2 separate regions of the Homo sapiens genome follow, and region 2 is linked to region 1. Evidence: fine-mapped expression QTL. A gene starts in region 1. The other region holds a variant in brackets. All regions are shown on one strand. Distances are between the middles of the regions.

What was found. PIP is the estimated chance that this variant, and not a neighbour inherited with it, causes the effect.
Region 2: its variant is fine-mapped to the expression of SH3BP5-AS1 in tibial artery (GTEx, PIP above 0.99).

The regions. Positions count from the first base shown.
Region 1 is chr3:15,252,025-15,256,416 of GRCh38, forward strand. It overlaps SH3BP5-AS1 (SH3BP5 antisense RNA 1), which reads left to right and starts at 2,160. Exons shown (of 3, transcript NR_046084.1): 1 at 2,160-4,392. CAPN7 (calpain 7) reads left to right here. Exons shown (of 21, transcript NM_014296.3): 21 at 1-892. SH3BP5 (SH3 domain binding protein 5) reads right to left here. Exons shown (of 9, transcript NM_004844.5): 9 at 2,329-4,279. The coding sequence ends at 4,062.
Region 2 is chr3:15,291,140-15,295,531 of GRCh38, forward strand. All of the region lies in intron 3 of SH3BP5 (SH3 domain binding protein 5), which reads right to left. Among named protein-coding and RNA genes, the nearest start is that of SH3BP5-AS1, 39 kb to the left of the region's middle. The variant C/T (reference allele first, on the strand shown) is at 2,251.

The DNA of each region.
Region 1 (4,392 bases):
GTATCGTTCAGTCTCTTGTGGCAATAGCACTTTGAAGAAAATAGAGAATTTAATATATGGTGATTGGGATATGTAGCATTCAAAAAAAGTGAATTGCCAAGATACTGGTGTCATGTAAATTCCCACTTTACATAAAAACCCATCAGGACAGAATGATGCTCAATATTTTAAAATTCTAAAAATAGGGTGGGATTTTTCATTGTCTCTACTTTATAATTATCAAAACTTATTTTGTATTGCTACTACCTTAAATTGAAATAAAATGTTTATACTTACGGATATTGCATAGTTTAAGTTAGATTTATTGAAAGATTTCATCTGTCGTGTTTCATGTAAATGAGAACAGATTATTTGCATGAAAATATATACTTCAACAAAAATCTGTTCTTTAACAGAGTAGTGGTAGATTATTACACTAATGAGATTTCACTTTGGTAAATACTTCATGCTTTCAGTTTTAGCCTATTAATTTTAGGTGGACAAATTTAACAAGTTTTCTGTTACTTTTTAAAAAGAAAAAATCCAGAACATAAGAACTATATTATGAACACATGATTTGAACCTGTTGTGGTAAAGATCTTGTACAGGATGCAAACTAAAAACCTAATCCCTGCCATCAAATTTATTAGAAGAGACCTATATATGAACAACTTAAAGGCACTGATTTCTATAATAGAGCTCTAAAAACATGCCACCAGTGTATGAATAAGGGAAAGATTAATTTTGGCTGGACCAATATAAAAAATTGTATTTGAAGAATTGATACTTTAACTTGGACCTTGAAGGTAAAGCTTCAAAAGACAGGTTACTGACCATTGAGTGTTTACTATGTACCCAATGTGTATATTTTTCTTTTTAATCTTCCCAATAGCTGAATAAAGTATAGATACTATTATTTGTACTTCTTACAATTGAGGAAATAAGCCTAAGAGATTAAAAGATTTTGCCCAGGGTTCACAAGCCTTCTTCCCTGAGCCCTGATTGAGCTGCTGTGTGTGTCTAATGGCACCCACAGTCACGGCCGTCTAGTCGAGGGAGGGACAAGATCTAGACCCATTGTAGAGGGAGGAAAAACAATCCAGGCCTTTTGGAGGTTCTAAATAACAGACAGACCAGTTGAATTGTTAGAGAGGATGACTCAAGTTTCTAATTCAGCACATGGACAGATGCTCATAGCTTCAGTGAAAGGTAAGTTTTGACACATTAAATTGCCCAGAAAATCCAGATCTGGAATCAACGTGGTATAGTAAGTGAGATCACCCAAAAAGTCAAGAGTCACGTGAACTAAAGATGGTTAAGAACTGATTTGGGGGAAGTTTTTTAGAAAGTATTTCTAATTTAGAAAAAAATACATAGACTAACAGGAGATACAAGAAAACGAGGGTTGGGGGAGGATTAAGAAGCCCAGTGAACAGAATTCCCAGAAGAGTATAATTAAATGTCAGATGTGGTGGAGATAAAGAGGCCACAGTGACAGCAGTAGGGGCAGACTACGTAAAACTAGAAATTTGACTAGGTGATAGTGTGAGAAGGGAGCCCTGGTCAAAAGGTGGTCTGCATCCTTTTCTGGTGTAGGAGACAAGCAAGTGGTAGGCTGATGGGAAAGGGGGATTGAGGCAGGAAACAAGAGAAATTCTTAATGCCCATAAGGAATACTCTAGTGCTACTGACTGACTGCCTAGGCTTTGTCTTTTGTAAAGACAAGGGAAAGAAAGCCCCAGTGTTAGAAAACTCCTTCCCACTTTCATTCTCTGCGAGAAGTACCTAGAAATTTCTAGTTATTAGACTGTATAACTTGACTCTGCTGTAAAAACTTTATCCTAGCTTGGGCTATTTTCCAGATGGTGTTTCTTCTAGGAGGAAAAAGAATTGCCTCAATTGCAGGGAAGTTTTTGCTAATGGTAAGTCAAGCAAGTCTCAGTGTCTTTACTACAGGTAAAAGGGTGTAAGGAGATTTTATGAGAACTGAATGAACCCTGAAGGTCACTAGTCAAATTCAGGTATGCTGTTAAGTGTTCTTGCTTGAGACCCAAATTACAAGACTGGCCAATTTTTGTATTTTTGGTAAAGACTGGGTTTCACTATGTTGCCCAGGCTGGTCTCGAACTCCTGGGCTCAAGTGATCCACCAGCCTTGGCCTCCCAAAGTGCTGGGATTACAGGCATGAGCCCTTGGGCCCAGCCGGCTGTTTAATGTTCTTAAATAGCACAAGGGACTTCTATGAACTTTCCTAGATGAAATATTTATTAACTACTAGGTAAAACACTTGTTTGATACTGCAAAGGGTTATTTCTGAAACTTAAACCTCATGATTGGCCAACCAAGAACTTTTTCTCCACAGCATGCTTTAATAATGAAATGCGGATTAAGAGTCCAATATTATAAAACATTTCCACAAAAGAAAGAATCCATCTGATTCTCAACTCTGAATGCACATTTGAATTCCCTCGGGGAGCTTTTAAAAGTCTAATGCCCCAGTGTACCCCCCCCAGTTAATTAATTAAATAATTCTCTGGGGATGAGAACTGACTGACAGCAACACTTAAGCTTCGAGACTGCAGTGTGCAGCCGAGGCCCACTCCTCCAGCGTCACCACCTCGTCTTTATCTGCCACTGTGTCTCCTCATTGCCCACAGCTTTAGCAACAGCAAAAGTAGAATTCAAACCTTGGTAAACAAGGCTTAAATTATTACTGTTCATGACCTTAATTAATTGAAAATGATTACTGGTGACCACAGCACTCCATGCTCTTCCTTATGGAAAAAGGGTTGCCTAGAAGATTTAGGCAATACTGGGAGTTCTTATTTGAAGTCACAGAAAGGAGAAACTTTTCTCAAGCCGTTTTTATTACACTTAGTGTATTAAGACAAGTACAAAATAACCTTGTAATTAAGATACTGTATCAGTCAAAAAAGAAGTCACTATTGTATGAAGAGATTTACAAATGACTAAAATATACAGGCTGTGACAGAATTAACAGTTTGAAAGAGGGTTGCTTTTTTCTTTTAGAAATGCTAAATTTTCTTAACAAGACAAAAATACAGTGCTCTAAATATGCATTACCATGAAAACGTTAAAGAAAAGCAGTCTTAACACTTAACTACTATTAACAGCCTTTGCCAACACATGCCTGCCTACTCCCTTTCCTAACTTTAAAGAACTGTTTCCTCTAAGGAATACTAGTGCAGCATAACCCTTAAATAATTTCATTTATTTTTAAAGTTACAACCTACAGAGAAATTAACATCTTGTCAATCTAATAACAGTGGCAACCATTCTTCACATGCACTTCTCTTAGAATAAATCCCCTTGGCTGGCAGGATAAGGCTTATGCTGTAGAACCTTCTCCCCCACAGCCACAAATCCCCTTCTATAAGTCCCTCCTACCCTCATCCCCCCGCATCCCCACTGGCATTCACCTTTCCCACCCCAAAAAGTGCAGCTCATGGTAGCCTTCTAGAAAATGGTTTTAATGGGTATCCCAGCATACACGCTTTTTTAAAAGCCCCCTCTGAACACCAGAGGTGGTGAAAATGAATTGTGTTCTTGGATTTTTTTTTTTTTAAGCCTCCACTGGGTCAAAAATATGTGCTCTTAATACTTGAGTTTTTGCTTTGTGTGTGGGTTTTCTTTCTTTTTCATTTAGATATCGTGGGATAAAGTGGAGAGGACATCTCCATTTTCCCATACAAACTGAGGGTGAGAAGAGAAAGAGAAGCAAGCTGTTGCCCCCACTTTGGCCTGGCTTCCCAGCCATCTTCCCAGCTCTGGTTCTTTCATAGGAACTAGTTATTGCTTCCACAATGCCGTTATACGGAATGTTCCACAAAGGCTGTGAACCTAGTCACAGTCTACCCACAACAAGAACTCTGCTCTGAAAAACCAGCCCAAGAGCTCTTACCCAGAAGAACAATCTTTAGCCCTCAAGGTCACTGAAACTTCATTAGAGCAGTTTAGAGTAGACGTGTAAGATTTGGCATATATTAAATGATTATTGGCACAATGTTCTCCAGTTCCATGTATAAATGTTGATATGCACATCGGCCAGGGCCCAGGATGAATCAGCCAATCTGCACCATTTTTATGTCAGCAATAATTCCATCTCTTCCCTTTGAGCACTGTAGGGAGAGCTGCTTCATCCGGTTCTCCAAGGCCTGGCCCTCAGGGGAGGTGCTGCTTTGGCTCTTACTGCTGCCACCACTGCCACTGCTACTGCTGAGGCCCCGGTTGTTGTTGGCTTTGTCACTTGTTTTATTCTCTGCCCCTTCTGCCCTGTCTCCTATAGAAATACAAGGATTATCAAAAGTGAGTATTGACAATTCTGCCCTGTCTCCTATAGAAATACAAAGATTATCAAAAGTGAGTATTGACAATTCTAAGTCACTTGAGCTC
Region 2 (4,392 bases), 39 kb after region 1:
CAGAAACACCAGGCTTGGGAGTAGCTAGAACAGCAGCATGAGCATTCGCATGCTTTTTAGTATCACTCAACTCTCCTGTCTGTGTTCACTTGTGCCCACTCAAGGCTACAGGCTAAGGAATGACAAAGTGGGAGCCAGGGTTCCTCCACAGCTCCACATGCTGTGGATTCAGGAACCCCAAGACAGGGCAGCTGACCCCAAAACTACTTTCTCTCTCTGGCTGATCAACACTACAAATTCCCTTTTGGTAGGGCTGCCAGATTTAGCAAATAAAAATATAGGCCTTCCAGTTAAATCTGAATTTCAGGTAAACAATTTTTTTAGCTTATGTACCAAATATGGCATAGAACAAATTTATACCTAAAAAAAAAAATCTGAAATTTAACTGGGTGTTCTGTATTCCCATGTTCTATCCGCCAATCTTACTTCTGGCTTAAACTCCACAAGGACATCCCACTGGGTAGAAATGAAAAGTCTACCTACAGCCTGCACTTCTAAGCATTTCCCACTTAGTGTAAAGGGTGTAGTTCTGTCTCTCACATGTGCAGAGGTTCCCACAGCATGATGAACCCTGAGTTGGGAATATGCAGTCCCACCAGGTTGGAAGCAGGGTATTCCAAGCTATGGGAATGTTTGTAAGTCAGAACCACTTGAAGCCCCAGAGACCATAAATCTCTAAGTCTTATCAGTCATTTACTTCTCAGCATGAATAATTTCATCAGATTCTTCAGGGTAGATTTTCATAGAAGTCACAACTGGAAGGGCTGGGGAAGAAGTAGAAAAGAAAGGAAGGAAAGCAGGGGCATCCTCTGAGTCAGGAAAGGAACAGAAGGTGCACCAAGAGTGCACAGCCGGGGCCCAAACCTCGTCACCAGGCAACATAAAAAGGCCAGCCTGTGTCGACAAAACTCGTAGCAGAAACACAACCTATGCTCTGATTTCCTTTCACTGAAAAATTAATCACTCTGCCACTCTTGCCAGGGAATGCCTGTGGTTTACAGAGGGGAAGGGGCTATCCATGTCCATGCAATCACTTTACTGAAAGCAGAGTACAGTTGAGAAGAAGGAAGGAAACATCTGAAGAGCATCATGGTTTCAGGGAACCAAACTCCACACCCTGTTTCCCCTCTAACCACTATGCTGTGGTGACAAACCACACCTGTTAGCTTCACAGAGAACACTGCCTGCCCAGCAGCACCAAGGGGGGCTCAGCCATGCCTCTGTGAATAGCAAAGGAGATAAGAAAAAGGGAGTTGCCCATGACAAACCTCCCAACTAACAAGGTGATGGAGGGCAGCTCCTCCAGCCCAGTGCTTCCTGGCTAAGACCTGCCTGCAACCAGTCCCCCACGCGGACTTCCTGCCACCTGCCAGACAGAATGGGGTTGAATGCAAATGGTTCATGGCATCACCAGAAAAGAAAACCTAAGCCAGGCGCGGTGGCTCATGCCTGTAATCCCAGCACTTTGGGAGGCCAAGGTGGGTGGATCACCTGAGGTCAAGAGTTTGAGACCAGCCTGACCAACATGGAGAAACCCCATCTCTACTAAAAATACAAAATTAGCTGGGCGTGGTGGCGCATGCCTGTAATCGCAGCTACTCGGGAGGCTGAAGCAGGAGAATTGCTTGAATCCGGGAGGCGGAGGTTGTGGTGAGCCGAGATCACACCATTGCACCCCAGCCTGGGCAACAAAAGCGAAATTCCATCTAAAAAGAAAAAAGAAAAGAAAACCTCAAGATCAGCAACACTCTCCCTGCTCCAGCCCCAGACGCCCGAGGCAGAGCCAGCCAAGCAGGAGGTGCAACCCTTCTGGCAGAAGCCCAAAAATCTACTTGTGTGTGTCAGGAGCCTTTGACCTGGGTCAAAAGCTGCAACACATCTCCTTCCTGACCCCATCCTAATTCAAGATTCCAAGTTTCCAAAGTGCAGCTGCTTCTTTCCCAGAATCTTCAGCCAAGACTGTCAGGCAGGATGTGATCTTTCAGGCGAAGGAGAGTTAAGAGTCCATGCTCAGTTCTTGCCATAAATCTCCAGGAACTCTGCTTTGAGACAGATGCCCTGTCATTCCACTACGTGCCCTTACTTTGGGCAGCAGGAATGACGCAGTTCCCAGGAACTGGCCTGTGGCCACCCAGGGGGAATGTGACCAGGGCCACAGGGAAGAACGTCACTGAGCCAGACCTCCTCACCCAAAGTCCCGTGGCAAGAACTGCCCCCAGGCAGGCAAGTGGCTCTGCAGAGATAAAGTGA[C/T]GGGGAAGAAGGAAGGCATGACAAAGCCACACTGAAGTCCTAGCAGGAACAGGGCACCATGAGGGGAAAGTTCCCAAGGACTCCAGATTCTTGGAACAAGAGCTTCTCGGAACAAGAGCTTCTCAGTTACCCTAGCCAAGAAGAGGCAGGGGTGTGCAGGGAAATAACTGCACCAATGAGCTCAAAAACTGCCTTTAGTCCTAAAAGCCCATTCTCCTCAGATGTGCCAGAGTGTCTTTCAGATTTGCAAATAGTCATAAATGCCTCCTATGTGCCAGGCACCAGCCAGAACCAGGTAGACTTGGTTTAAACCTTCACTCCTGTCCTCGCAAGGTCTGTGATGTTAAAGTCCCCAAGCCTCAGTGATTATTCCCCCTCAGTATGATGAAAATAATATCGTCTTGCAGGCCGGACGCAGTGGCTCACACCTGTAATCCCAGCACTTTGGGAGGCCGAGGCAGGCGGATCATCTGAGGTCAGGAGTTAGAGACCAGCCTGGCCAACATGACGAAATCCTGTCTCTACTAAAAATACAAAAATTAGCCTGGTGTGGTGGTGTGCACCTGTAGTCTCAGCTACTCGGGAGGCTGAGACAGAAGAATCGCTTCAACCTGGGAGGCAGAGGTTGCAGTGAGCCGAGATTACGCCACTGCACTCCAGCCTGGGCGATAGAGCAAGTCTCCATCTCAAAAAAAAAAAAAAAAAAGAAAAGAAACAAGAAAAAGAAAAGAGTACCACTTTGCAAAAAGTACTCGCTGTAAGGATTAAATGAGATAATGTACATAAAAGACCTATGACCACAAACCCAGGCCCCTAGCACAGCCTCAACAAATCAGGGCTGCAGATAGCCCCTTAAGAGAACACAGACTCTAAGCCCCAGTTTCTTCTTCTGCAAAAGTAAGTGTGTGTGTGTGTGTGTGTGTGTGTGTGTGTGTGTGTGTGCGCGCGCATGTTTACGTAACTCCCCCTCATGCATGTAAAACACTTAGAAAGTGCCTGGTATACAAAGAGTGTTGAAATTACTCTTCTTCCTCCTCCCTTCCATCCTCCTTTCTTCCTCCCTTCCATCCAGTAAACTGTCACCGCCATACCACTGACTCCCATTTTCCCTGCATTCTGGATAGATAATTAACCAAGTCTGTTACAGTCTCCCTTCACATTCTCTTAGATTAGGCCACAACACCGGAAAGGTTTATGTAAAGGCCCAGTCTTTGGGCTCCAAGACTAGTTTCCTCATTCGTACTATAAGGCCAAAAGGGAAACAATGACAGCCCCCGCACAGAGCAGTGTGTGTGGCACCTAATACATCATTAGCGCTCAAAAAATGGCAAAAAATGGAGCTGCCATTAATGTAAGGACATCAATTTCTCAAACACAACCTAAGCCCCCTAACTCAAGAGCCTACCATGGCTACTTTGCAGCTTCTCAACCAAGTCTGAAGGGTAGGCTGAGGCGTAAGGCACCCTCAGCTGTCCATGCTGTTCCTTTCCTGACTGGTCCTTTAGCTCCCCTAAGCCTCTCTTTCCAAGGCTCTGGCTTCCTTACCCAAGTTCATATCTGCACTGACCCCTCCCCTCAGATCTCTGCTCTTCTGTCTTTACCAGCCACCCTTCCTCTTGTGCTTCGGAGTGTGCACAGTGTGTCCTTCCCCTCAAGCCTTTCCCCTCAAGCCTTCCTGATGGGCAGCATCTCCCGCCAACACACACACACACAGTGACACACTCCCTAGCTTCTTCCCTTTGCCATCTACATCAGAGCCACATGGTTCAGCGCACTAACAAATAAGCCTCTCCATGTGGCTCTTGGCAAATACAGTCAGTCCTCATTATTCACAGCTTCCGTATTTGTGAATTTGCCTACTTACTAAGCTTTATTTGTAACCCCAAAATCAACACTTGCAGTGTTCTTGGGGCCATCCATCGACATGCACAGAGTGGTGAAAAAATGAGCTACCTGATACATACGTTTCTAGCTGATGTCCAACAAGAAGCCACCCTGCCTTCTTGTTTTGGCTCTCATACTGTACACAAGTGTCCTTTCCTCGGTCCTTTTAGTGCTGTGTTTTTGACATTTTTGTGCTTTTTGTTGATGATTTTTCTCTATAAATTGGCCTCCAAGTATAGCAATTAAGTGCTTTCTAGT